Regions from separate parts of the Homo sapiens genome. Here region 2 is linked to region 1. Evidence: fine-mapped expression QTL. A gene starts in region 1. The other region holds a variant in brackets. All regions are shown on one strand. Distances are between the middles of the regions. Region 1 holds the start of PITRM1 (pitrilysin metallopeptidase 1). Region 2 overlaps PITRM1 (pitrilysin metallopeptidase 1).

Region 1 (2,912 bases):
CACTCACAGACAAAAATGTCAGCACGAACCCTGACAGTCCCAAACTCAACTCACCCGGAGGTGTATCGACAGAGAATGGATAAAGTGCGGACTAATCGTTCAATTAAAAAAAAAAAAAAAAAAAAAAAAAAAAAAAAAAAAACCTTACCAATATAAGGGCCTACAGTGGCATGTAACAAAGATATGGGTCACATAACGTGAAACAAAAGATACACATGATACAGTATTATCCTAAACAGGTATTATTCAAATAGGTAACAAGACATTGTCAGAACGCATAAAAATGGTAAAATATTAAAAAAAAAAAAAGCAAGGACATTTCTGTATGTTATGACCGTGATAATCTAAGAGGGAGGGAGAGAGTTACGAGCAGTTAGGGGAATCTTCAACTTGGTCACAGGGACACTAATTTTCTTTTTTGAGACAGATCTCACTCTGTTGCCCAGGCTGGAGTGCAGCGGTGCAATCTCGACTCACTGCAACCTCCACCTCCCGGGTTCAAGCAATTCTGTCTCAGCCTCCTGAGTGGCTGGGACTACAAGTGCTCACTACTACGCCCAGCTAATTTTTGTATTTTTAGTAGAGACAGTTTCACCATGTCGGCCAGGCTGGTCTTGAACTCCTGACCTCAAGTGGTCTGCCCGCCTTGGCCTCCCAACATGCTGGGATTACAGGTGTGAGCCACCGCGCCCAACCTATTTCTAATAATTATTCTCACCTGAATGAGATGGCTCACACCTGTAACCCCGCAATGCGAGAGGCTGAGGAGGGGGATCAAACCAGCCTGGGAAACAGAGCAAGATCCCTGCTCTTAAAAAACACGTAATTATTATTCTCTCCAATTGTATTATATGTCGTATGGGATTTTCTACATTAATGTATCCCACCGAAATATTTATTTTAAAGATAATATGTACAGGAAGAAAAAACCTATTCAGTCACTGGCAATATTATGAAGATATGCTATAACCAACATTTGCTTACTGATTTAGCAAATTTCAGAATTATGGGACAGAAGCGTTTTAAGAAGTTACTTATCAAGGACATGATAGGAAACTCCTGAGCGGTAAGGCCAGGCCGAACTCATGCCACGGACGCCCCGTGCCTCCCGGCCTGGGCCGGCAGCGCTGAACTATTACCTTATATTAAACACGGGCTCGTGGATTACCATGAACACTAAACTGCTTCGTCATTTTTTTCCCCATAAATTGAGTCATTAAAAAAACAAAACAGTTCAATTCCGGGAGGCGTCAGTTCTCTGAACACAGCGAGACTTTAAGTATGGGCTGTGGGCGCCTCGGGTCTCTTAAGGACTCGGCCTCCCAACAAAAATGAACTAGGAGCAAAGCTGTCAGCGAGAACCGCAAATGCCGACCCCATTTACTACCCCCGTTAAAGCCCACGCTAATGGAGGGCCCCGCCGGGAGCGCCGCGGGCAGGCCCGGCCCCCAGCCCGGGGCATCGCCCCTGGGAGTAGGAAGGAGCTCCGAGGTCCTCCGGCCTCGGAGCCTCGGATGCGGGAGCTCCAGGAAGGGCTCGGGGTGCGGGACGCCCACAGCTTGGGGAGCTGCCAGCCCCGGGCGCAGGGACGAGGACCCCTACGCCTCCGGCCTGCCCTGGACCCTCCCCTCCCGGGTACCAGCGCGCCGAGCGCCTCCCGTCGCAGCGTCTCACCCGCCGCTCAGCCGCCTCAGCACACACAGGCCCTGCCGCCCGCCGCAGCGCCACATTGCGCATGACGAGCACCTGGCTGGCGAGGAACCCCCTCTTAACCCGACGCAGGGCGCGGGGCGGGGCTTGCCGTGACAGCTACCACTCCTATTGGTCAACGCGAACAGCGACGTCCTCTGCGATAGGCTGTAGGTGAAAAGGGTAGGCCTCCACTGCTCTGGGACGGGCGGGAGGGCGGTGCGGACGGAGATGGGCGGGAGGGGCGGGGCCGACGTGCCGAAGGAGGCGGGCAAGGCGAGGGGCGTGGTACGGGTAGAAAGGGGCGGGGCCGTCTTGCCGAAAGGGGCGGGGTTCGGCCAGCAGCAGGATGTGGACAGATGATAGGAGGGGGAAGTGGGCAGGCGAGAAGTGGGGCGTGGCGAGAGGCGTGTGTATGCAGATGAAGTGGGGCCTGGTGAAGGGCGGGGCTGCGCTGGTGAAAAGAGGGGCTCCTGGAATGGCGTGCTGTGTTGGGTGGGGCTGTGCAAGTGATGGGAGGGGCTTAGCGAGGGGTGGCTCTTTGCAGGTGAGGAGTGGAGACCAGTGGGAGAGGGGATTGCAAGTGAGCTGAGCCTTGGGGGCGGGGCTTGCAGGTGACAGGGTGGAGCCTAGTGGGCGGGGATGCAAGTGAGCTGGGCCTTGGGGATGGGGCTTGCAGGCGATGGGGTGGAGCCTGGTGGGGCGGGGCTGCAGGTGAGCTGGGCCTTGGGGGCGGGGCTTGCATGCGAGAGGTGGGTCCTTGTGGGGGCAGGGCTGGCAGAAGTGGGTGGGGCTTGGTGATGGACCGCGGTGTTCAGGTGAGGGTAGTGGCCTGGTTGGGGGCTGCCGGAAGCTGGGCCAGGTGAAACTTGGTAGCCCTCTCTGGCCTTGGTGTGGGCGTTGGTCCTGTTTGTAGGGCTGAGCTGAGCTCCAAAGGCGTTCTGCTGCCCCGCCAGGCCTGAACCTTGGGGTCTGGGGGCTTCTTGGATGAGATCTCAAGGCTGCATGGCAGGTCCCAGGGCCAGGGCCCCACGGTGTCACACGTATCACGGATGGCCGCCAGCGAAGCACAGCACAGCTCCGAGCTGCTGCATGGGAGCCTGTGGCCCCCGCTGCTGCCTCCGCTTTCCTCTTCGTTTCGTGTCTAGGAAGATGCACCTGAGCCCCCTGACATTGCCCAAGTGCCCAAGGGCCCTTCTGGGAACCCCCAGAGAGGCTGAAGG
Region 2 (2,912 bases), 25 kb before region 1:
GCTCTGGCACCCACCAGGCGCTCACCGGGCGCCAGCACCACCAGTGCATACCTCGACCGTGTGTGGGCGCACAGGCCTCCGTTCCTTTTTACTCCGACCGATGCTTCTAAGGAAGTCTTCGACCGCTTTTTCTGTCTGAGGCATCTGCTGAGGAGTCGCATTCACTGAACACCTGTTTGAAAAATTATGTATACATAAAACCACTGTTAGAAAAAACAGTTTTAGTAATTCATCACATTTTGTATAACTCAATAATGTTGTTTTTATAGAAAATACTGTTCAGAGTGTTAAACAGCAGCCAAATGTGGAAATGCCACGGCCGCCTCCCTGCTCTTCAGTGCTTCAGGTTATCAAGAGATTTCCGCACAGTTCAATGTGGCAGCTAATGAAGCCGTCCATACGCGGAGCCTGTGACTCTAAACTCTAGTTCTTCTGAAGAGCAAAGAAAATACAGAGACTATTAAGATCTGCTAACCGTGCCTTCGGAATTACACTATCAAAACACTGACAACTTTTAAAATTACTGTCCAGAAGTCATCAATTTGAAAATGTGAACTGGTTGTTAAAGCAGAACATTATAAACTGCAAAAAAATACCATGCTCTCAAAGTTACATGAAAATAGAACTCTTCCAAATTCCACAGAATTGCAAATACTACTATCATATAAAAGCTACTTGAACTCTACAGTATATTGACAGAGTGTATATTTTTTCCTTTCAGCTGTAAATCCTGAACTTATTCTAGTTAAAGTAACAGCAGGTACCATTATATTAATACTAACTATATCCCAGGCATGTATGCTGCCTTGCAGATATTCTTTCTTTTATTCCTTACGATAAACCTGCAAAGGAAGGTTTTATGGAGGAGGAAGCAGAAGACGCAAGTGGGTCAGCTGCCCAGGACCGCCTGGGAGCGAGTGTGAGTGCTGACCCGGCGGCACCAGAAGCCAGGCCTGCCTGAGCCCAATGCCAAGAGACCCTGATCGCCAGGCTTCACCTCTGGCCACCCACAGACCGCCCTGTAGAATCTGCCAGGGATTCTCAGGACATGACTGGGGAAAGGCATCAGGACTCTGTGTGAAGAAGGACAAGTGACTTCAGCAAACATTTTCTTGTTAAGTACTGATGAATACATCAATGTCACTGACAATAAGATGCTGAAAATAAACAATCATTTTTAAACTTTATTCATGCTCACACATCTGAGGGCATAAGGCCAACTGAAGGTATAGGACTGAGCTGCCAGATGTTTCCTCAAAGCATCACATAATTTTATAAGAAACTGCACTTTTACTCTGGTCTTCAGCAAGCTCACCTTTACAGATACCTCAGTTACGGACCATGTGCTTTTGGAAGCAATATAACTACTTGCCCTCAATCTATTTGCACTTCTAGCACAAAATTAGCCTGCTTTCTTCCCCATCTCCTACAACTTTTAATAGGCTTAAAATATTTTCTTAGTTTGTTAGAACACTTGACATTTACAATAAATTCTATAACCTTTACCAAGCACTCTATCTTGAAGTTTCTACAAGTAAGAAATACCTAAAAACTATACTTAATAGAATGAATCATAAAATATTTAGAAACAAATCACACATGCACCTCATATTATCACCATTTAACAAGTGTTTCTTGATACG[C/T]GGGAGCTTCCTCAGGATGGGTTTGATATCTGTCATTTCTGCAATCCTCTTCATCAGCCGCACCTAAGCCAGAGGAAACTCGCTCAGAGAGAGGCAGAGGCTACAACAGACCCGCTGAGTCTGAACCAAGCACCTGTGACATCAGAACCCTGCTTGGGCAGGGGTTATGTGTGCGAGTGCACGGCTTGGGCAGGGCTGGAACTGGGATGCAGGGTGGTACAAAGAGGAAGATGAGTCAAAACCAACCAACCAATTCTTCCCCATATTTAGTCAGTTAGAAAGTTAGCATTTCTGGGACATAAATTAATGTATTCCCAAAGAAATTAGTAACTCTGGAATATGTGGCTAAACCGGAGTAATAGAGGTTCCTTCCAAGCTTCCCACCTGATCCATCCCGCTGAAGGTCTCCTGCAGGTCCCCTGCGGGCGTGAGGGTCCGGCCTGCCCTGATGGATGCGTACAGGTGCCCAGAGTCAGGAATTCCATTGGCGAGCTCCTGGGCGGTCATCTTCACCAGCACCTTGAAGTGCTCCTCTTCTTCAAAGCACGGGCTATGGAAAAAGGAGAAGAAAAAATTCCTGGAGACCCATTCCTCACGTCCCTTCAGTATCATGGAAAGTTGATTAAGTTTTCAGAGTACTTTAACAACCAAAGAAATTTTATAAGTCCATATGAACTACAAGTAAAAGTCAGACTTGGAAAACAACAACACACACGAGTAAAACTGTCTCCTTTAAAGTACTTCAAACAAAGATCTCTAGTACACCCCAAGAATGGACAACTCTTGCAAATAAAGTTACTTGTTAAATATTTCACTCCATAGCTGCATCATGTCTGGCAGGTTTCGATCCAGGCAGAGAGAGGAGAAAAGCACACCCTGAACCAAAGAAAACACAGAAGAAAGGAATTAGGGCCGAATCGAACAGTGACAGACACTGGAGAAAAGCTTCCCACCGCAGCAGTCGTCTGACGGTACCAGGCTACCTGCTCGTAGGTGTCCATGTGTGAGTCGTCGGGGAGCACGTGGGGAGAAGCACTCATCCCTCCGGTCTTCAATTCTATCTGCTGAGCCTGCTCCCGGTAGTCAAGAAGGCCGCAGCCCAGCCTGACACAGCAGAGAAGCATCGCCCCGATTACAAGTCAGTCTTTACTGAATCATTTTTAAAATCGTGCATCTTGAGTTACAAGTTGCTTCCATTAATTCAATAACTGCGGCTTTGCCAACCTCTCTACACTTCGAAGGTCATAAGCAGGTGCACTCTGGCCTTCG

The links.
Region 2: its variant is fine-mapped to the expression of PITRM1 in esophagus muscle (GTEx, PIP above 0.99). The same link has a PIP of 0.9 or more in uterus.

What each region holds. Positions count from the first base shown.
Region 1 is chr10:3,171,043-3,173,954 of GRCh38, forward strand. PITRM1 (pitrilysin metallopeptidase 1) reads right to left here and starts at 1,740. Exons shown (of 27, transcript NM_014889.4): 1 at 1,675-1,740. The coding sequence starts at 1,730. RefSeq lists silencers at 1,265-2,104, 2,395-2,554 and an enhancer at 2,753-2,912.
Region 2 is chr10:3,145,545-3,148,456 of GRCh38, forward strand. PITRM1 (pitrilysin metallopeptidase 1) reads right to left here. Exons shown (of 27, transcript NM_014889.4): 17 at 2,627-2,747; 18 at 2,443-2,519; 19 at 2,028-2,193; 20 at 1,606-1,706; 21 at 52-172. PITRM1-AS1 (PITRM1 antisense RNA 1) reads left to right here. Exons shown (of 4, transcript NR_038284.1): 4 at 1-2,912. Among named protein-coding and RNA genes, the nearest start is that of PITRM1-AS1, 5.4 kb to the left of the region's middle. The variant C/T (reference allele first, on the strand shown) is at 1,644.